3 linked regions of the Homo sapiens genome follow. The protein of the gene in region 2 interacts with the protein of the main gene of each other region in a pairwise test. Each region holds a gene or a part of one and is shown on either strand. Other genes may lie near its edges.

What was found. Proteins that work in one complex are often made in the same cells at the same time.
Region 1: the proteins of UBASH3A (region 2) and SHISA6 interact in binary tests that used the Homo sapiens proteins (3 or more experiments, as listed by UniProt).
Region 3: the proteins of UBASH3A (region 2) and KRT32 interact in binary tests that used the Homo sapiens proteins (3 or more experiments, as listed by UniProt).

What each region holds. Positions count from the first base shown.
Region 1 is NC_000017.11:11,244,213-11,251,212, reverse strand, and holds part of SHISA6 (protein shisa-6 isoform 1 precursor), read right to left. Parts: intron 1-7,000. UniProt on the Homo sapiens protein: Involved in maintenance of high-frequency synaptic transmission at hippocampal CA3-CA1 synapses.
Region 2 is NC_000021.9:42,398,994-42,406,920, reverse strand, and holds the start of UBASH3A (ubiquitin-associated and SH3 domain-containing protein A), read right to left. Parts: upstream 3,020-7,927; 5' UTR 2,976-3,019; coding exon 2,863-2,975; intron 614-2,862; coding exon 560-613; intron 1-559. UniProt on the Homo sapiens protein: Interferes with CBL-mediated down-regulation and degradation of receptor-type tyrosine kinases. Promotes accumulation of activated target receptors, such as T-cell receptors, EGFR and PDGFRB, on the cell surface.
Region 3 is NC_000017.11:41,464,387-41,472,265, forward strand, and holds the start of KRT32 (keratin, type I cuticular Ha2), read right to left. Parts: upstream 3,001-7,879; 5' UTR 2,940-3,000; coding exon 2,472-2,939; intron 1,791-2,471; coding exon 1,708-1,790; intron 1,544-1,707; coding exon 1,387-1,543; exon of another isoform or gene 373-1,386; intron 58-372; coding exon 1-57.

The sequences.
Region 1 (7,000 bases), on a different chromosome or scaffold from region 2:
ACCAGTCCCAGGGCATGGGAAGGTAGGTCTTTGCTTTCTTAAGTAATCTGAGTATCACTGACTCCATTACATTCAGGAAGGTGAGACCCAACTGTTCTACTGGACTTGAGAGAGAGAAGGGCACCAGCAATGTACTAGCTGTGTGACCTTGGGCAAGTTACTAAGCCTCTCTGAATCGGTTTCCTCATCTACAACATGGGCCCCTACACTCAGACGGGATGATGGGAGGATGCAGCGAGATAATGCAGGTTAGGTGCAAGCTGGATGCTGGTACAGAGTAAGCCCTCGAGACCCGGCACTCTTATGAGTATCTCTCTACCATCCTCTCCACTTCCTTGAGTCTTCATCTCACCGAGATCTCCAGTTCTCTCCAACTCTGGCTTGTGGGCTTGCATGAGTGATGGGGTTGTGTAAGCTCCTGGGACACAGAGCTCCCACTGTCCTGACACGTGAGCAGAGTTAAGAGGGACTCCCCAGGCTCACAGCAAGACTGACTCCTCCAGAATGCCCAACAATGGCCTTTAGAGGGTCATCAGGACCAGAGGCTCTGCCCCGGCCTATGCATGGGGGCAGTACAAATGCCCAGCCCTTTACCAACCCCTAAATCCTGACTGAGATGAAGGAATGCCATTCTACCCAGGTAGCACAGCCATGGCTTCCCTGCCTGCAGACACTGAGTCTGGTAACCCTTGTCACCTGCCTTTACACTCAGCCTGCCCCACCCTCGCTCCATTTCGGTGATCAATTCATCCACTGAATGGACATTTGGGGGTGGAGCGAGTGGTGATAAATGCACATTAGGAATTGATCAGCAGTGCTCACTGGCAGCCTTATCTTCCTGGGCTTGCAAATATTTCTACATCATCTAAGGCAGTCTGGCCCAGCTGGTGACCCCGTCTGAATGCAGAAGTACAGAGGCGACAGCCCTGGGATAGAAAGAAGGGAAGGCACAGTGAACACTCTGGCTCTGACCCCGAGCCTCACTGCATACATCCCGTAAAACTGGGTCCTTTTACCCTCAGTATCAAACTAGGAAGCTAAATTAAGCTAACTGTCTACTATCTCATGCAGAAATATGGGACGTGCACTTTTTCACCCTTTCTGAGCAGTTCCATGTGAAATGCTTGCTGCAGACTCAACTCCTTTTTCTCCCTCTCTCTTAGGACCTCCACCACCTGCCTGACACACGGATAAAGCATAAAACTGATTTTCTTAAGGCCAATAATTGTCGTTCCTCATGAGGAGTGTCCTCTTCAAAATGATCATCGTGGATTGCCAGGCACTCCTGTGCAGAGCTGCCATTCACTCCTTTCTGAAATGCCTCTTCTGGGCTCCTGCCTTCAGAGACAGCTGACACGGCTCCTAGGAGAGCAAGTCTCATTACTGGAGGCACTCTTGATTTCTGATCACCTATCTCATTCATCAGACTCAGCCCCATGACTTACCATTGCTTACAAGAATCAAATCAACCCTAGGAAAATTAAAATATGTTACCCTTATATAAAGTCAAAATGACATGCCATGGGCTCTCAATGTACTTTCAAGAGAGGGACCGTGGAAACATTTTCTGCAGAAAAATCAGCATGCGGCCTCCCAAGGTGACTGCTTGGAAGGGTGACACATTAAGGTATGTACAACCAGGTTCTTTCAAAGGAAGTATCAAGCACATTACAGGGAAAACCCCCAAACTGCATGCCACAGAGGTTATTTTCACATAATGATTAAGCCCAGATTTCCAGCTTGATTAGCCTGCAGTATCTGGGCCCAGAGCTGAGAAAGGGCAAAACTGGCGTCTATGAATGAGCTTCCGTGGCTTGCAGAGCTATATTCTATGCAGGGGGCCAACCCAGAAGATAACCCTGAAATCACACACACATATACACACGCACACACACGTCCACACACACGCACGCGCACACACACACACACGGCCACTGGATGGCGGGAGGTCTCTGGCCTCTCACAGAGCTGAACTGCATTGATCCGGTAGGTCTCAGCATTCAGCATTTCCACTCATCTCTGGGAGAGAGAGAGAAAGCATTCACAGTCTGAATTTTTTTTTTTTTTTTTTTTTTGAGACGGAGTCTCGCTCTGTTGCCCAGGCTGGAGTGCAGTGGCGCGATCTCGGCTCACTGCAAGCTCCACCTCCCAGGTTCACGCCATTCTCCTGCCTCAGTCTCCCAAGTAGCTGGGACTACAGGCGCCGCCACCAAGCCCGGCTAATTTTTTGTATTTTTAGTAGAGACGAGGTTTCACCGTGTTAGCCGGGATGGTCTCGATCTCCTGACCTCGTGATCTGCCCGCCTCGGCCTCCCAAAGTGCTGGGATTACAGGCGTGAGCCACTGTGCCTGGCCCTGAATTTTTAATGACAGATTTCTGCCCACAGTTTCATTCGGTGACTTTTTGCCCCAGTCCACAACTCTTTGGTTGTGCTGTTATTTTCCTTCTTCAATAGTCCGCATTACTCAGACCTTATAAAAGGATTATGCTTAGATTAGGTTATTGCCCTTAAGAAAGGAACGTGAAAAAACTGCAAAAGGAGCGGGGAAGATCGACAGAAATCATTTTAGTGGAGACATTCAGTGGAAACAGTGAACCAGGAGGGGTACAGAAACGTAGGAAAGAAAGAGAAAGGAGAAGGCTGTAACTCACATCTCTAAGGATCCCAAAGTTATTTGGTGATGACTAACCAAGGAACGTGCAAAGAGTAAAGAAGCAGAATATATTTTCATTGAATGAGATGAGTCTGAGCGCTAGAACACAGGCGCCCTGGCTTAACCTCCAAGCTCACCCACCCACTAGCTGGGCTCCTTGGCACTGTGACCTAGCCTCTCTGAATTTCAGTTGCCTCACTTGTAAAACTAGGTAACGAGATTAAATGAATTGCCTGCAATGAAAACGTTATAATTCTGTAATAGATGACAAAAGAATAGAATGTACTACCCTGCTTTTTCAGAAGTTCTGGTTTCACTTCGAGAGATTAAAAAAAATAGAGTTAGCAATGTATCCTGAATTGTTTTAAAATTAAGCTTGCTCAAGGGTTGAGTTCAAGGGACTGAGACCCTCTGAGGATTCACTGGTAACCCTTGTACCCAGGCCTCTTATCTCTCTACAATATCTGCAAAGAAAGACACTAGAGGCCAGGCTCCGTGTCTCACACCTGTAATCCCAGCACTTTGGGAGGCAGAGGTGGGCAGAGCATGAGGTCAGGAGATCGAGACCATTCTGGCTAACATGGTGAAACGCTGTCTCTACTAAAAATACAAAAAATTAGCCAGGTGTGGTGGCGGGCGCCTGTAGTCCTAGCTACTTGGGAGGCTGAGGCAGGAGAATAGCTCAAACCAGGGAGGCGGAAGTTGCAGTGAGCAGACATTGTGCCACTGCACTCCAGCTTGGGCCACCAAGCAAGACTCCATCTCAAAAAAAAAAAAAAAAAGAAAGACGCCAAAGAGGTGAGGTCATAAACGTAACTCAGGAAGAAATAATGGGGTGGAGTTTCCCAAGGTAAAGAAAAGAGGGGAAAAATCACAACAGAAACTACAAAACGTACTTAGTCTAAATCCTCATATATTCCACCCAAGCACAACCCCTCCCACCACCACCAACCAATCTGAGACATCTTACATGCTTGTAAATTGAAACCATCATTTTGTGGTTCCAGAGGTGATATATCATCAAGGGCTATGAGCAAAATTGTAAGACAAAATTCACCATAATTTCAAAAATGGATGGTACAGGTGTTTGAATGGGGAGAGGGCAGCAGGGAAGGAGGGTGGTGACCTCCCATAGCCAGGAGCACGGTGGCAGTTCCAGCATGTGGTAGGAATTCTTGCAGACTATAGAAATTGAACTAGAAAGGGAAGACCTAAATACAATCTGCCAGCCCCTGGAAAATCAGGCGATGGAACTGGAAGCATGAAGCTTCTTTTGTTGTGGTTCCCTTTTATTCCGGATCCGTAGGACTGTCCGTCTGGAGCTAGTGAATTAGCCTCTTTCAATCAGATCACTTTCTCAGCTGTCTTAACCACTGTTTCCTGCACAATTGATTTGAATCCACTGCACGGTCAATCCGATCTCTCATTAAAACCAGTTGAATACAATGAATTAGGCTTTTTTCTCTAGCTGTGTCTTGGCAGCCTAGAACAGTGGGTAAACTTGGTACCTTAGCAGTCGATTCCCAGAAATGAATGTGCTCCCCACCTCGGGTAGGGTAAGAGGGGAGAAAGGGATGGGTGTGAAGGCCTTCTGAGCTTGGGGAGGGGCAGGAAGGGACATGAAGACAGTGAGCAATGTGACCAAGGAGAATTGCACAGTGTAGGGAATTTGAAAAGTATTTGCATGGTTGCCCTGCTAAAGCAAGAAGGAACCCTGCTAACCTCATATATCAAAGGCAACATGTGTCTTATAAGCTTATATGGTGTAGTATGAAACACATCTTGCCCAGGGAAGGTGAGCAGGGCTCATTTGTTAAGTGAATGTCTGCGTGTGTCTGCAAGAGTCAGGACAAACCAAGCCTGTGGCACATGAAGGCAGGGCAACGTCACTTTGTCCCTTCAGTGGGAATAATCAACCTCTCACTGGATTGCTTTCCTCCTTTCGCTATTTTTGCTTCTTTCTGCCTTCCCAGCATCCTTCCCCTAGCCCTTCCTCCATAAGACTTCTCCAGTTCTTCCACAATTTTCCTCTTTCCCTACAAGCATTTATTTTTTCTTTTTATTTTTTGAGACTGAGTCTCGCTCTGGCCCCCAGGTTGGAGTGCAGTGGTGCGATCTTGGCTCACTACAACCTCTGCTTCCCAGGTTCAAGGGATTCTCCTGCCTCAGCCTCCCGAGTAGCTGGGACTACAGGCGCATGCCACCACACCCGGCTAACTTTTTGTGTTTTTCGTAGAGACGGGATTTCACCGTGTTAGCCAGGATGGTCTCAATCTCCTGACCTAATGATCCACCCACTCTGGCCTCCCAAAGTGCTGGGATTACAGGCGTGAGCCACCGCACCCGGCGAAGCATTTTTTTTTTAACTCAAAGAAAAAAGAAATAAAGGCAAGGCTAAAACTTTCAGTCCAAGGCAAGATGCTTTTTTGTTTCTTTCCTTCTATATTTGAAGTAGAAAAATAAGTCGACTCTCTATTTAGATCAATTCATTATAGTGAGCTCACAGTGCTTCAAAAAACGCAGTGACTTGACAATTTGTTGCCCAGGAGCCTAGGAAGAGAACTCACTAAATCAGCCAGCGAAGGGGCCCTGCCACTGCAGTTATGTGGCCTGTGAGGAAATAACAGAGCTCTTTGAGTTTCTAATTAATTTCTGGAGGGAGAAAGAGTAGAACAAAGTATTCCCTTGACTTCTTCTAGAAATAAGCAAGAGAACCAACCCAAGATGAAGGGGTCACCTCCTAATACTTTTTCCTGTTGATATCCACCTGGATTTTTCTTCCCACCCACCTAGATATCCACCCCCCCCACCCTGCCCACATTCTTTGATCCCCTCTGCTCCTGTGCAGGCAGTGGAAGGACCCAGGGCAGCTCTGATTTCACCAACTGCGTCTCCAGCATCCTAATAGCTTCCTGACCCATCTGTTAATTAGCCATTAAAAAAAGCCACACAGTTCCTCCCTCAGAATGATTCTCATCTCCAAGACACTAATGAATCAACTCAGGGTGAGGAGGAAGGAACAGGTTTGGATGTGAGACAGCTAGCACAAAAATGAATGTCAAAAAGGACCCAGGCTCCCAGGCGGTTTCCTGGGTGCAGCCCATGCCCTTGGCGGCCCTCCCAGAACAAAAAGCCCCTCAGGGGAGCTGTGCGGAAGTCAGTCAGGAAATAGCAAAATCTGTGGATGGCTGCAGCTTGAGCCTTAGCCCGGGCAGTTTGGAAGAAGGGAAAAGTGAAGTGGAGATCCTGGTAGGAATTGGGCTTCCGGTTGGGAAAGGCAGGCACGGCTGCCCTGGGGCTCTCTGGCCACATCCAGCACCCAGCTCTGCCTTTCAATCCTGTGCCCATCTCTTCCTCCTCCACGGAGTCCAGCTAGCTGAGTCGGACTTGGTACTCATCTATTAGAATCACAAGAGAGCTGACGGTTTCCCCCACAGACACTGATTTCTCACTCAGAAACACGATAGCAAGGTCTAATCACTTCTGGAAATGATGAAATATCTTCCTCCCTGAAGGAGTAGAGAGATGAAAGGAAGTCCTACCCTAAGGAATGTGTGTGCATGGGCAGGCGGAGGGCTGTCCAGCCTGGGAGCACTAAGGCAGATGCAGATGGCCCATCCGTTCCCTTCACCCCTGCTCACACTCCCATAAATGTCCCTCTCCAATGAGGCTGTTCTCACTGAAACTCCCTCAGACTCAGCCCCTGTCTGCCCACCTATCATCTTCAGGGGGAAGCACACACTGAAACCGGTTTGTCTTTCTTGTTCAGAAAGGAAACATCTTTGCTGAGCTATTTCAAGGAATATGTAACTGCATGCACATCCGCTTCCTCTCTTGACCTCTCGAGAGTGTACATTCTTTCTCCTCCCCACTTTCCCTAAGGAAAACTCATTACGGTGTGAATATTTCTCTGTCTCTATCACTCCCTCCTTTTCCCTACCTTGATTGCCCAACAAGACAGTCTACACAAAAATACTCCCCAGAATGGCAAACGGTGGTCTCTGAGGTGTGAGCAAAGTGAGAAGAGTGGTGTAGTCACACTCACCCCCAGGAGTCTGAGATCAACTTGCACACTCACCCTGACGTGCCCCGGAAGCAAGAAGCTGAGTTGGGACATTGTGCTTCAGTTACCCAGAACTGAAAAATAAGTTTCCCTGACCTGCCCAAGGTCATTCATGGAGTGTCGTAGATGGATCCCCCATGCCCTGTCCCCCTACCACACACAGACAGGCATTGTCCCCTACCCAACAGGCACGGATATGATGGTTTCCAAAGCACTGATCAGGCAAGACTGCAGCTGCTGGAAGAGAGGCTGTGAACTGAATAAAATCAGGTGGTGAACTTG
Region 2 (7,927 bases):
CTCAAATCTTTCCATCAATAAACACAAACATCCTCCTATCTATCTCAATCTTATCCATCGTAGTAGGCAGTTGAGGAGGACATAATCAAACACAAGTATGCAAAATCCCAGCCTGCTCTTCAATTACTGAAATAGGCTGAATATTAGCAGTACTAATATAAACCCAAATGTTACCATTTTTAACCTAATTACTTTATTCTAACAATTACCCTCATTTACGTGCTTATCACAACACAACAATCATGTCTTCCCCATTTACTCAACAAAGCACATGAACCTGTTCTTCTTGGCAGTCAAATTGGATTGAATCAGGTTTGTAAGTGAAGAAAGCCTTGTTCAGAGTTCTCTCTTTCTCTTTCCATGGTTAACCAAAGCCCTGTGCCCCTCCCTCAGTGCACTATGGGTAGGCAGGGAGGTTATTTTGTTTCACTTCCGCAGTGGCCCCATCCCACCCAGAGGCGCCCGGCTCTTCCTGGTATCAGCCCTGGTGGGAGGGAGTCCTTAGGCACAGGGAATTCAGCCCAAACGCCCCTGGGTCTACAGAAGCAGCTGCACTCACCAGGCCAAGGCCTCCTCCGCCGTCTTCCTCCCCGTGGCTGCCAACGCTTTCAGCCTGCAGAAGAGCAGACACAGACACAAAGTCACGTCGCCCATTCTTGGGAAAAGGGTCAGAGAGGCAGGGTGTGGCCTTGCACACCCAGGATCTTTGGGGGGTGCTCTGAAGAGGGCCTGATGCTGAACTTCCAGCTGGAAGTTCTAGCGCCTGTCCCCTGAGTGCTGCCATCGTGGTTTTGGACAATGCTGACCAGCTCACACCTCCCCCTCACTGTCCTTCCCTGGCTACCCGCTTCAGCCCTTGGCACGGGGTCTCAGGGCTGAGGACCTGACCTCCGCCCGCTCCTGCAATCCCTCTCCCTGGCCTGCCCCCCCCCCCCCCACTGCCTAGATCAAATGGACCCACCCTGCGGAACGTGCCCCTGGCTCGGACACACGCTTTCCTCACCCCAGCATCAGCGACCCTGATCCCCAGGCTCGCCTCCCACACCTCTCTGCTGGGAAACAGCCCTTTCCAAAGCACCCAGGCAGGCACTTGTTACGGCTTACACAGTCCCCTTGCACCCACGGCTCTCCCCTGCTAGACCAAGAACTCCCTGAACACAGGACTGAGTCTTATTCATCACGGTAACCCGGGACGTAAGTACATTGCATTGAATTGGGCAGAACTGGACCAAATGAAACAGAATGGAATATAGCAAAGGTAATTTATCAGGAATGCAGACTGGAAACAGCGGGCGTCCATGAGGAACCCACCACATGATGCCGAATGCTGCTATTTGGGTGGGCACCGATGGGGCTGTGGCCACCTGGAGAGGTTTGAACAAGGCAGCCTTGGTGCAGGGCACTTACTATGAGGTGCTCTGGTGTGGGGAAATTAACACACATTTCTCTTCCTCCAACATGTGCTTAATGTTTAAACTGGAAGGAATTTTGAGTAGAAGTCCATGCTATACGTTTAGTAGTAAAATCCAGCGTGGACTCCTTCAAAGGCATGGAAAGCTGGTTCGGGTTCCACCTCCGCCACTAATGCACTCTCTGGGCCCAGTGTCCTGCCTGCACTGGGTGGTGAGCAGTGGACAAAAGCTGCCTTGTCTGTAATGCCTGGACGGTGCCCGGTGGCCGCCCTGCACATGCCTGACCCCACTCCCCATTCAAAGGCCCCTGGCTTAGCTTGAACATAACAGTGACGACAAAGCCCTGATTTGGGGAGAAGAAATGGGTTTGTCTAGCTTCAGAGTTACTTCACCCAATTTGGCCAAGCTTTTGTTATAGTGTGGAAGGAAAGTTTAGCTCCTTCCCCAACCCAAAGTTACCTAAAGTGTGTTTCTGATACATTTTTCCATGTGAAAAAATGAATGGGTCAGATTTAAAGTGTGTTTCTGATACATTTTTCCATGTGAAAAAATGAATGGGTCAGATTTAAGGCACTGGTTTGCCATGAAAGCTGTAACCCAATGTTGGTGTCGTGGCCTCCCTCTCCGAGAGTGGTAACTCTGAAGGCTAAGCTCTTCCACATGCAGGCCTTTCCCTTGGGTAAGCAGGGTCGCGCTCACACTGTGTCTGAAGTTTCCTACCCATTTGTTTCGTTATCAGACACTCAAGGGATTGTCTCTGAGGACAAGTGACTTTCCCCGGGCAGCGTGGAAGCACAGCCCTGCTGACAGTTGGTCCCAGTGTTAGAGACTCAGCGGGCTTTGGGGCCTTTCACGTTAGAGTTTGAATATCTTGAAACGCCACTTTCAGAGTCACTGAGCTGCACACAAAGAGATTACAACCAGGCCCCAATCTCCTCCAAACCCCCAAAATGGGGCACCCAGAGTAATACATGGCTTCTGATTTTCACAAATTTCAGGGTCCCCCAGTCAGCCAGCCGAGCTGGTCTTTAAAAGGTCAAGAATATCAGGGGTATTCTTGTGCCTCCCTGGGCCACACATAAAATACGCTAACACTAATAATAGCTAATGAGCTAAAAAAAAAATCTCATAATATTTTAAGAAAGTTTACCAATTTGTGTTGGGCAGCCAACACAAATTGAACAGGGCAGCCTTAGGAGGCTGAGGTGGGATGATGGCTTAAGCCCAAAGCTGTCCTGGGCCTCATGTGGGTTGGACAAGCTTGGTCAAGATCACCTCATTTACGAGAAGCAGAAGAGGGCCCTGTGAAGAGGCAGTGTCTTACCCTGCAAGGTGCACTGCTTTGGCAGGAAGCCGTACCCTACACCCCTGCAGCTCCATGCCGGGGGCCGCAGCAGGGTCTGGCACCAGCCTTACTGGCTGGGCCCCGGGGTCTCTGGGCAGTACTCACGCGGTGTGCACCGGGAAGCCCATGGCCAGGAGGGGCTCCAGGAGCGAGGGGCTGCTGCGGCTCTTGAGCTTGTTGGAGACCTTGGCGTAGAGCTGCGTCTCCCCCGCTGCCATCTCTTCCTGCCCTTAGGCCAAGAAGCTCGCCTGCACACAGAAATGAGGAGATAAAGCAAGAGGGGGAGAGGCAAGGCTGAGGCTGTGAAGAAAAACCTCAAGCTCTTTTTGATCTTTCTGACAAAAGTTGATATCCTGTTTGCATGAGATATCAGTTTTCAGAATTCTGTTTGCAGGATGCTGGGTGCAGCGTCCACCAATCCTAACTGTTTCCACCACGGGAGTTTGAGGCTAAAGGTCCAACCGAGCCCCTGCACGGGATCAGCCTCTGTAGGGACTTGGCTAGTATTCGGGAGCAAGAATGCGTGAGAGCATGGGGGAAGGAAGCGGAGGAGAAGTCAGGGAATGAGTTCCCTCCTGGATCCTGCTGGCCCCCTGCCCTGACCCACCCTGGATCCCAGTCTCCTTGTCTGTGAACAAGACATTAAACCCCACTCTATCTATTGTCTCGGATTGCTGGAAAACTTACTGGTTCTTTCAGTCATTCATTGACTTGTTTTTTTATTTTAAAAACTTTAAAAGCTTTATATGTGTACAGAAAAGTTGATGAATCATATGTGTATAGCTCAAGGAATTTCCATAAATGAGCCCACACCCCTAATTCCCCCACGACCCAAAATCAAACAGGGCAACCAGGGGAATTTTGTACCTCCTCCACCCAAGGGGACATTTGGAAATGTCTGGAGACATTTTTGTTTCCAAAATGAGGCGGGGGTGGTGGTGGGTGGGGTGGACATCGTGGTACCGGCACTAGTGGGTAGAGGCCGGGAATGTCACAGTGCCCAGGACAGTCTCCCCAACAAAATTTCACTAGTGCCAAGGTGGAGATAGCCTGCTCTGGAACATTCTCAGAACCTCAGATGCACCTCTGCCCCCAGCTCAGCCTCCTCCAGTTATCTCCTCCCTCCCCCAGAAAGTAAACTGCTGTATCACTTGTATATGAATTGTGCCTGTGGTTGAGCCTTATGTAAATAGAACCATATAGCATATTCTCTATCATATCTCATTTCTTTTTCCTCAAATTATGCCTGTAAAATTTATCCACATTATTGCTTGTAGCCACAGTTAGTTCACTGTTATTGCTGTGTAGTATTTGATTAATAAATATACCAGCCAGGCGTGGTGGCTCACGCCTGTAATCCCAGCACTTTGGGACTTTGGGAGGCCAAGGGGGGGGTGGATCACCTGAGGTCAGGAGTTCGAGACCAGCCTGGCCAACATGTTGAAACCCTGTCTCTACTAAAAAATACAAAAATTAGTTGGGCATGGTGGTGCATGCCTGTAATCCCAGCTACTCAGGAGGGTGAAGCAGGAGAATCATTTGAACCCAGGAGGTGGAGGTTACAGTGAGCAAAGATTGCATCACTGCACTCCAGCCTGGGACAGAGTGAGACTCCAGCTCAAAAATAAATAAATAAAATAAATATAACATAATTCATTTATCCATTTCTCTGTTGATATGCATTCAGGAAGTTTTCGGTTGTTTTGCTATTGTAACTAATGTTGCTGAGGACGTTCTTGTATGTGTCTTTGAGTGCCTTGTGCATGCATTTCTGTTAGGTGTGCATCTAGGAGTGGGGTTGTTGGATCACAGAGCACGTGAAACTCCATTAGGAACTGCCAAGCAGTTGTACAAAGCTCTATATCCTCATGCACACTTAATATTATCAGTCCCTAATTTTAGCCACTCTGTGGTGGGGGTGGTGTGTAGTTGTATCTCCCTGTGGTTCCCATTTGTATTTCCCTGAGGGATAATGATATTGGGCACCATTTCACAGGCTTATTGCCCATTTGAATATCCTCTCTGGGGAAGTTCCTGTTCAGATATTCTGCTCTTTTTTTTTTTTCACTAGGGTGTTTGCTTTTCTTATCAATTTGTGGGAACTCTGGTTAGAGTTTTCTGCATCCTGTTCAAGAGATTGTTGTTAATCCAACATCGATGAAGATCATCTATGTTTTGTTCTAGAAGTTTTGCTACTTTTGCTCTTCATATTTAGCTCTATGATCCATTTGAATTCATTCTGTGTATGGTGTGAGGTAGGGGTAAACTTTCATCTACTTCCGCATTGAAAGGGCTATCCTTTGCCCAGTGAATTGCAGTAGGAGGCTTATTGTAAATCAAGTGACTGTATATGGATTAGTTTTTTCTAACTTGTGTGCTCTCTTGTTTGATTTGTCCCTCTTTGTGCCCATTCTACACTGTTTTAATCACTATAGTGCTAAACCCTCTGGTTTTGTCCTTTGCTTTTTCATAAACATTTACAAATCAGGTTGCCATGGTGTGTCATAGTGTGTCATTGGGTAGTGCAAAAAGATTCACACCTACAATCAATTGATTTTCAACAAGGATGCCAATGAAATTCAATGGGGGAAGGATAATGCTTTTGATAAATGGTGCTAGAGGCTCAGCCCATAATCTCAGCAGTTTGGGAGGCCAAAGTGGGAGGATCACTTGGGCCCAGGAGTTTGAGATCAGCCAGGGCAGCAGAGTGAGACTCCGTCTCTTAAAAAAAAAAAAAAAAAAGACATGGTGGCATTAGTTCCAGCTACTCAGGAGGCTGAAGTGGGATGATGGCTTAAGCCCAAGAAATCGAGGCTGCAATGAGCTGTGATTGCATCACTGCATTCCAGCCTGGGTGACAGAATGAGACCCTGTCTGAAAAAAAAAAAAAAAAAAATTAGTGCTAGGAAAACTGCATATTGGTAGGAGGAAAAACGAACCTCAACCCTTACCTCACATTATATACAAAAATTAACTCAAAATGTAAATGCTAAAACTATAAAACTCCTTAAGAAAACCTAGAAAAAAAATGTTTGCTATGTTGGAGTTTGCAAAACTTTCTTAGGACATAAAGCGAATAAACCAACAAAAGAAAAAGTTGATGAACTGTACTTCACCAAAGTTGAAAACTTCTGCTCTTTGAAAGACATCTTAAAGAGTATAATAAGGTGAACCACAGACTGGGAGAAAGTATCACTATACATATAGCTGACAAAGGACTTGTTTCTAGAATATACAGAATATTTTATATATACTTATAACAAATAATAAGAAAACAAGCATCTATTTTAAGAATGGGCAAAGTATCAAAAAAGATACTTTTAAAAAGAAGATATATACATAGACATGAAAAGATGCTCAACATCATTAGTCATCAGGGAAATGCAAATTAAAACCGCAATGTGATTCCACAGCACACCCACCAGAAGAGCTAAAATGGAAAATACCAGGTTTACACAAGGCTGGGGAGTAACAGGAGCTCTCACACTGTGCTGGTGGGAATGCGTAACTGTCCAACCACTTTGGGGAACATTTGGAGGGTTTCTTATAAAGGTAAATATACATGAAAACGTGTGTCCACACAAAGATTGGTCTATGAATGTTCATGGCAGCTCTACGCATAATAGTTCCTTCTATTTTTTTTGCCTTTATTGCACTGACTTGGAACCCAAGTCAAATGTTGAACAGATGTGGTACTAGTGCACCTTCTTGTATAACTCTCCATTTCAGAGGACAAGGTCTCAATATTTCACCATTAAATGTGAGCATATTGTGATATTTATTTGTATAGTTTTATTTTCACTTTTTTGAGGCAGAATCTCACTCCGTCACCCAGGCTGGAGTGCGGTGGCATGATCTAGGCTCACTGCAACCTCTGCCTCCTGGGTTCAAGTGATTCTCCTGCCTCAGCCTCCCGAGTGGCTGGGACTACAGGCGTACACCACCATGCCTGGCTAATTTTTATATATTTAGTAGAGATGGGGTTTCACTATGTTGGCCCGGCTGGAACTCCAGACCTCAGGTGATCCACCTGCCTCAGCTTCCCAAAGTGCTGGGATTACAGGTGTGAGCCACTGTGCCCTGCCTGATTTTTAAATAATATTCTTTTGGGGCCGGGCGCGGTGGCTCATGCCTGTAATCCCAGCAATTTGGGAGGCTGAGGTGGGCGGATCATAAGGTCAGGAGATCGAGACCATCCTGGCTAACACAGTGAAACCCTGTCTCTATTAAAAATACAAAAATATTAGCCGGGCAGGGTGGTAGCCTGTAGTCCCAGCTACTTGGGAGGCTGAGGCAGGAGAATGGCGTGAACCTGGGAGACAGAGCTTGCAGTGAGCTGAGATCACGCCACTGCACTCCAGCCGGGGTGACAGAGTGAGACAGTCTCAAAATAATAATAATAATAATAAATAAATATAATAATAATATTCTTTTTACTGTACGTATTTAAGGTGTACAATGGGATGTTTTGCTATATTCATAATAGTGAAATGAGCGCTGTCATCAAGCAAATTAACATATCTATCATCTTGCATTGTTACTTTTTTTACTTTTTTTTCATGGTAACCGAAACTAAAATCTGCTGTGGGCAAATTTTCAGTATTCAATAAGATATTATACCTCTGGCTGTCAGCTGTATCTTCCGTCTCTGGACTTCTTCATCCTACACATCTGCAGCTTTGCACCCTTTGATCCACACCTCTCCATTTCCTGCCCCTACACCCTCCCCTGAGAACCCCACTTTATTCTCTATGTATTCAACTTTTTTTTTTTTTTTTTTTTTTTTTTTTTTTTTTTTTTTTTTTTTTTAAGATTCCACATATAAGTGCGATCCTGCAGTATTTGTCTTTCTCCGTCTGGCTTATTTCATTTAGCATAATGTCCACACACTTCATTATCCTTTTTCTTTGAGGAATTCAAAAGATGAAATAATTCCACAATCAAATGATTTATCTTGAATTTGAAAGTCTGCAAATAGAGAAAGCTTGTGACCCAGAGGGAAAAAGTAGATTTGGGTATGAAATATAGTCTCTACTCAAGTATATTTTTCTCTTCTAAATAATAAACCCTGTTTTGAGCAATTGTGTTATGTTTATAACATATTAAAATGAAAAATGCTTCTATGCATTTCTCTTAAAAAAATCTTATTTGTGTAGGCCAGAAGATGCCT
Region 3 (7,879 bases), on a different chromosome or scaffold from region 2:
AGCGTCCACCTCGATGTTAAGGCGGTCCCCAAGCTGGCATCGAAGGGAACCGACTTCCTGAAAAGGCACAAGACCTCCAGAAAAATGTGACAATGATAGGATCCTGGCTCACCTCCCCAGGGAGACATGAAAAGATGCAACAAAAGTTGCTAAAGATTGAAACATTAGATGGCCCCTAAGGACTGCAGTCCACTCAGCAGCATCCCAGTGCTCTTCAAACTCCAGCTGAATACCCCTGCGATGGGAACCTCACTGCAACACAACACTTCCTATCACTTTGGCAGAAGCCAAGAGCAGCACCCTGGTTTGTTTGATGCATTTGGGCTAAAATGGGAAACCGGTACCCCTAGTATTCCCAGTCTCCCTCCCCACCTGTGTTCATCCTGGGAGGAGGGTAGCAGGAGCCTGGCTTGACTAGTTAAAGGCCCGAGTTAGGGCAGCTGCCTCCCAGGCTTGGCTGCCAAAGAGGGAAAGTTGTCACTGAGTCTGCCAGGATGTGTGATAACTTCTCATTAGTGGCTTCTTGGTGCCGTTCCCAGTTCTCTGATTTGAGCAAGATGAGTCAGGAGCCCGAGGGTGCTCGGTGAGTACGTGGTGACTGATTGTTACTTTACACTTAAGCCTGAGGAAACCCAGCCAAGATTCAGAGGCACTTGTTCATTCAAATCCCAAGTCAAGAGGTTGAGAGTCAACCAGGGAGGGGGGAAAAACACCATGGCTCAGGTGGGCTTGGCAGCACACAGGTGCCCAAAGCAGAGGGCTTCCCCTCCAAGAAACTTCAGGAGATAAGGAAAAATCAGAAAGTAAAGGGCTTCAGCTTGAGCATTTTATATGCAAACAGAAGGGAGGACAAAATAAGGATAGGGGCAAAAAGAGGAGACCACTGCAGCTGTACTCCCTCTCAGAAGAGATGGGACTGCTTCTGAGAGTTGAGCCAGGCAGAGATGGACAGGCCATTCAACGTGAGATCTGGAACATAACTCACCCCGGCACCACTGCACCACTCTACCTCTGCTGTGTGGCTCTCGAGAGAAAAAAATGCAGTTGCCACTAGTGAGTGCTTGGCAGTCACACTAGCCCAGGAAATGCAGAAGGGAAGGGGGCTACACTTCTGAGAGTTGACCAAGTGGCAGGTGTTTCATACCCATGCCTTGGGGATTTCCATGATCCATATCCTGTCCATTAAATCCTCACAATAACCCTGCGTGATCATGTTGTCCCCATTTTACAGAAGAGGAGGCTCAGGAAGATTCCATAAATTGGGCAAAGTCACTAAAACAACATGTGGCAGGCTTGGGAATTTCAACCCACGCCTATCCAACCCCATACCCCACGTTCCTCCCCCTCTGCTTCCCGGGGCCACTTCAGCGGGACTTCCAGCCTCACCTCCTCATGGTTCTTTTTGAGGCACATCAGCTCCTCCTTCAGGGACTCAACCTGGGCCTCCAGGTCAGCCTTGCACAGAGTGAGATCATCCAGGATCCTGCGCAGGCCATTGATGTCGGCCTCCACCAGCTGCCGCATGGCCAGCTCTGCCTCGTACCTGCACAAGGACAGGGTCAGCAACCAAGGGTGAAACAGAATGCAGAACTCAGGGAAGGCCTTAAACTGCCGGCACTTTCCAACCCTCCGTGAAACTAATGGAAAGTTGCCCCAGAGCCTATGAGGACAGGTCCTCCCCAGCTCCAGCCCCCCGACTGAACTCACTTGGCCCTGAAGTCATCGGCAGCCAGTTTGGCATTATCAATGTTCACAACCATCCTGGCATTCTCTGCCTTGGTACACAGAATCTGTAGGCCAAGGCACATGGAGAGGGTTAGTTCAGGATGAGACGAAGCAAGAAGAACCCAAATGAAGAGAAGACAGCAGCAAAGGTAGGATCCAGCAGCCCTGCAGCCATCCCTGCAGAAGGTCCTCTTCCCTGGAACTCTGGGAGATATTTAGCGAATTGCTAGTCCTTGGAGAACTTGAGATGTATTTTTTAAGAACCTGAAGCTTCGTAAATTCAAATTCCCCATTTTGGATGTGCCAAGCAATGTGGAAGGGAAGAATCTCATGTCTGAAGTCACTCATGTGACAGTTAGAAGGGTCTTTGACATTTACTGAAAACTTACCGTGGACCAGGGGCTGTTCCAAGCACTTGACCTGCATCATCTCATCAAATCCTTTTGACAACCCCATTAGATAACGACCATTATTATCCCTGTTTTACAGATGAGAAAACTGAGGCCTGGGGAAGGGATGGGACCCCCAAAGTCATGCAATGAGGCAATGGTAGAACTGAGACTAGATCCCAGATCTCTCCACATGAAAGCCTCAGGCTGAGTGCTCAAATTATAAAATAACCCTATGCCCTAGGGAAGTCTCTTTGTCCTGAACATAGCTTAATAAGCTAACGAGATTCCAATCTGGAATGCCAGCTAGTCCAGTTCCCTTCCCAGAGAGCCTATTCACCTCACCGCTGCCCTCACCTTCTGCTGGAGCTCCTCAATGGTCCTGAAATGAGACTGGTAGTCAGGAGTCATGGTGAGCACCTGGGAGTGAGAGGCCTCTTGGATCCTGCTCTCCAGCTCCGCATTCTCCTGCTCCAGCTGCCGCACCCTCGTCAGGTAGCTGGCCAGGCGGTCGTTAAGGAACTGCATGGTTTCCTTCTCATTGCCATTGAAGGCCCCTTCGCTGTACCAGCTGCCGGGGCCCATGGAGCCGGAGATGCCACTGGCTGCCTGGCAGGAACTGGATAGATAGGTTTTGGAGAGGCAGCTGGCTGGCCGGAAGGTGGTGGGCAGGCAGACCGAAGGCAGGCATGCCATGGGCTGGCAGACATAGCCCAGGCACAGCTCAGGCCGGCAGTTCACGCCGCTGGAACAGACCGAGGCAGGCCGGGGGCAGCTCTTGAGAGAGGCTTGCAAGTTGTTGGTGACACAGCAGGAGGATGTCATGTTGGAGAGGCCCTTTCTCCTCAGCCACAGCTACCTGGATGTCTACAGACCCCATGCCGCCCGGGCCATTTTATGCCCTTGCAGTGAGGGGGCTCATGATAGAAATTCATCATTGGGTGGTGTTGATGTTCACACCCAGCCCCAGAGGAAGCTGCTAATTAATTTGTAATTTGGTTTCCAATAAAAGAGGCCAAACTTATCATTTGGCTAAAGCAGGAGTCTGGGTTCCTGTCATTGATCACCATGAGAGAGCTTCAGGACACATCTTCAAAGGGTCAGCCGCATGCCTGGGCCCTCATTACTAGGGCAGGCCCTCCAGGAGACTGCCACAACCCAGCCTGTGCCTCCACTGGCTTTGCCCACTGCACCCCCGCCTGCTCTAGCCCTGAGAAGCCTGCAGGTCTGTGCAGCAGTGGCTGCCTCTTTTAATGAAAGCATTCCCCATGGGAAGAGGCCTGGCTATTTAACAAGGAAATGTGTGGGTGGTAGAAACTGCTCCGATGCTGGCAGCGGCATAAATCCAGCAGAAAGGAACAGGAACCTCAGAGGCTTCCTAACAGACATCATCTTCCTGCCAAGGGGAAGAAAATAATATCAGTGGGGAGAGAATGAACTCAAGACATAGGCAGCATCACTTCTCAGCCTTTTGGCTAAGATCAAGTGTGGTATCTGTTCTTATCGTCTTAATATCTGATACGTCCTCCATCTGAGGACAACATATTAAATGGATTTTGGGAGCAGGGAGATGGAATAAGAGCTTGCTCTGTTCACTCTACATGTTGACCTGGTATTGCAGTACCTCCAGGAATGCTGCACCCCTTCAAAAGGCAAAAAAAAAAAAAAAAAAAAGACCCAAACAGAAGCCTAAGAATCAGGTACATCTTTCCAGTTGGTCTCTTCCTCTTGGAAAAGTCCATATCATGAACATCTCCAGGTGGCAGCTGCTCTGTCTTGACCCCCTCTGGACCATCCATTCAATTATCACTGCACCATATACACAATTGTCAAGTGCTCAATAATTGTTTGTTGAACAGACTGAGAATAGTTGGAACAGGTTCTACTTTTACTTTCTGTTGTGGCAGATGGGGAAGGCTCACTTCAGGATCTCAGACTATGGAAGCAGTGTGAATCCACTCCCTTGGGAAAGGATGTTCTATAGCCCTGGAATGAGCTAAGCCAGGAGACAGGGAGCATATTTGCCCAACTATAGAAGCCCTGGGCATTCACTTAAGAAGGCAACATGCTAGAGCAGTGGTTTTCAGTCCTGGCTGCAAAAGCTGTGAGCTTCACATTTAGTATGTGTGTGCTATATAGCCACTTTTTTATTCAGTAATCTTCTTGATATAATTTTGGGGTATAAGTACTTGCCTTATGTTTCACATATTCCCAGAAATGTCAGTACAAGAACAGGAAAGGGAAAATGCCACCCAGCTCATTCATTGCATAAGAAAAGGAGAGCGTAGATATACTGCCTCTGACTTGCCATTTGGCCTTGGGAAAGTAATTTTGTCTCTCCAGACCTCAGTTTCTTCATGCCAATCGAGGGGGTCAGATCAAATACTCTCACAATTTGATTCTCTGCAACAACTACAAATTCCAGTACCTTGTCTGGATTACCTATTTAGAGAAGATTATAGCATCAGATGGAAGGAGGTGTGATGGCAATACCAACTACAAGGGATGAGACTCATCAGGCCACCCTTCAGAATCATAGCCAGCACTTGTGGAATGTATACAAATACCAGGCATGGTGCTGAGTGCTTGGCATTAATTTGCCCATTTAATCCTCTCACCCAAAAACTATAATTATTATAATAAGGTGTTATCAGTCACTCTCAGCATCAACCTGACTCAGGAACATGTTAGAAATGTGAGTTTTCACCCTAGAAGAAAGTCTAGGCAATACCATTCAGGACATAGGCATGGGCAAAGACTTCATGACTAAAACAGCAAAAGCAATTGCAACAAAAGCCAAAGTTGACAAATGGGATCTAATTCAACTAAAGAGCTTCTGCACAGCAAAAGAAACTGTTATCAGAGTCAGCAGGCAACCTATAGAATTGGAGAAAATTTTTGCAATCTACCCATCTGACAAAGGTCTAATATCCAGAATCTACAAGGAGCTTAAACAAATTTACAAGAAAATAACAAACAACCCCATCAAAAAGTGGGCAAAGGATATGAACAGGCACTTCTCAAAAGAAGACATTTATGTGGCCAAGAAACATATGAAAAAAAGCTCATCATCACTGGTCATTAGAGAAATGCAAATCAAAACCACAATGAGATACCATCTCATGCCAGTTAGAATGGTGATCATTAACAAGTCTGGTAACAACAGATGCTGGCAAGGCTGTGGAGAAATGGGAAAGCTTTTACACTGTTGGTGGGAGTGTAAATTAGTTCAACCATTGTGGAAGACAGCATGGTGATTCCTCAATGATCTAAAACCAGAAATACCATTTGACCCAGCAATCCCATTACTGGGTATATACCCAAAGGATTATAAATCTTTCTACTATAAAGACACATGCACAAGTATGTTTATTGCAGCACTATTTACAATAGCAAAGACTTGGAACCAACCCAAATGCCCATCAATGACAGACTGGATAAAGAAAATGTGGCACATATATACCATGAAATACTATGCAGCCATAAAAAAGAATGAGTTCGTGTCTTTTGCAGGGACATGGATGAAGCTGGAAACCATCATTCTTAGCAAACCAACACAGGAACAGAAAACCGAACACCACATGTTCTCACTCATAAGTGGGAGTTGAACAATGAGAACACATGGACACAGGGAGGGGAACATCACACACCAGGGCCTGTCGGGGGATGGGGGGCAAGGGGAGAGAGAGCATTAGAACAAATACCTAATGCATGCGGGGCTTAAAACCTAGATGATGGGTTGATAGGTGCAGCAAACCACCATGGCACATGTATACCTATGCAACAAACCTGCACATTCTGCAAATGCATCCCAGAACTTAAAGTAAAATTTTTAAAAAAAAGAGTGTGATGTTCCCCTTCCTGTGTCCATGTGTTCTCATTTGTTGTGGGGTGGGGGGACGGGGGAGAGATAGCATTGGGAGATATACCTAATGCTAGATGACGAGTTAGTGGGTGCAGCACACCAGCATGGCACATGTATACATATGTAACTAACCTGCACATTGTGCACATGTACCCTAAAACTTAAAGTATAATAACAATAAAGAAAGAAAGAAGGCATAGATGTTGCAGTTTTTAAATATTTGCTATTTAATGTTGTTTTATTTAAACAATGTAGATACACTGCTTTGATAAAAATAAAAATAAAATGTAAAAAAAAAAGAAATGCAGTTTTTCAGGCTCATCCCAGACTGGCTGAATCAGAAACTCTGAGGCTGGGGCTGGGATGCAGCAGCCTGTGTTTAGCATGTCCTTCAGGTGGTTTGGAGACCCACTGAGATAGAGGAAGATACAGGCATACCTCAGAGATAGTGCATGTTCAGTTCTAGACCACCACAATAAAGCAAATGTAACCATAAAGTGAGTCACACAAACTTTTTGGTTTTTCTGTGTATGTAAACATTATATTTACACTATACTATAGTCTATTAAGTGTACCATAGCATTATGGCCTAAAAACAATGTATATAACTTAATTTTAAAAATGCTTTATTGCTAAAAATGCTAAGGATCATCTGAGCCTTCAGCAAGTTATAATCTTTTTGCTGGTGGAAGGTCTTGCCTCAATGTTGATGGCTGAGGACTGATCAGGGTGATGATTGCTGCAAGTTAGTGTGGCTGTGGCAATTTCTGAAAATGAGACATCAGTGAAGTTTGCCGCATCAGTTGACTCTTCCTTTCATGAAAGATTTCCCTGTAGCATGTGATGCTGTTTGATAGCATTTTAACAGTAGAAATTCTTTCAAAACTAGGGTCAGTCCTCTCAAACCCTGCCACTGCCTTATTAACTAAATTGATGTAGTATTCCAAATCCTTTGTTGCCATTTCAGTGATGTTCACAGCATCTTCACCAGGAGTAGTTTCCATCTCAAGAAACCACTTTCTTTGTTCATGAATAAGAAGCAGTTCCTCATCCGTTCGTTTTGCCATAACATGGCAACAATTCAGTCACATCTTCAGGCTCCAATTCTAATTTTAATTCTCTTGCTGTTTCCAACACATCTATAGTTACTTCCTCTGCTGAAGTCTTAAGCCCCTCAACATCATACATGAGAGTTGGAATCAACTTCTTCCAAACTCCTGTTAATGTTGATATTTTGACCTCCTCTCTTGAATCACAAATATTGACATATAGAATAGTGAATCCTCTTCAGAAGGTTTTCAATTTACTTTGCCCAGATCCATCAGAGGAATCACTCTGTATGGCAGCTATAGCCTTATGAAATATATTTCTTAGGTAATAAGACTTGAAAGTCAAAATTAGTTTTTGATCCATGGGCTGTGGAATGGATGTTGTGTTGGCAAACACAAAAACATTAATCTCCTTGGACAGCTCCATCAGGGCTCTTGGGTGATCAGATGCATTGTCAATGAGCAGAAATATTTTGAAAGAAACCTTTTATTCTAAGCAGTAGGTCTCAACAGTGGGCTTAAAATATTCAGTAAACCATGTTATAAACAGATGCACTGTCGTCCAGGCTTTGTCGTTCCGTTTGTAGTGCACAGGCAGAAAAGATTTAGCATCATTCTTAAGTGCCCTAGGATATTCAGAATGGTAAATGAGCATTGACTTCCCACTTGAAGTCATCAGCTGCATTAGCTCCTAGCAAGAGAGTCAGCCCATCCTTTGAAGGTTTTGAAGGCAGACTCCTCCTGTCTAGCTATGAAAGATGCCGCCTCCCTAAACTTCATCATTTCTAGCTTTTTATTTAAAGGGAGAAACCTGCAACTTTTCCTTTCACTTGAACTCTTAGAAGCCACGG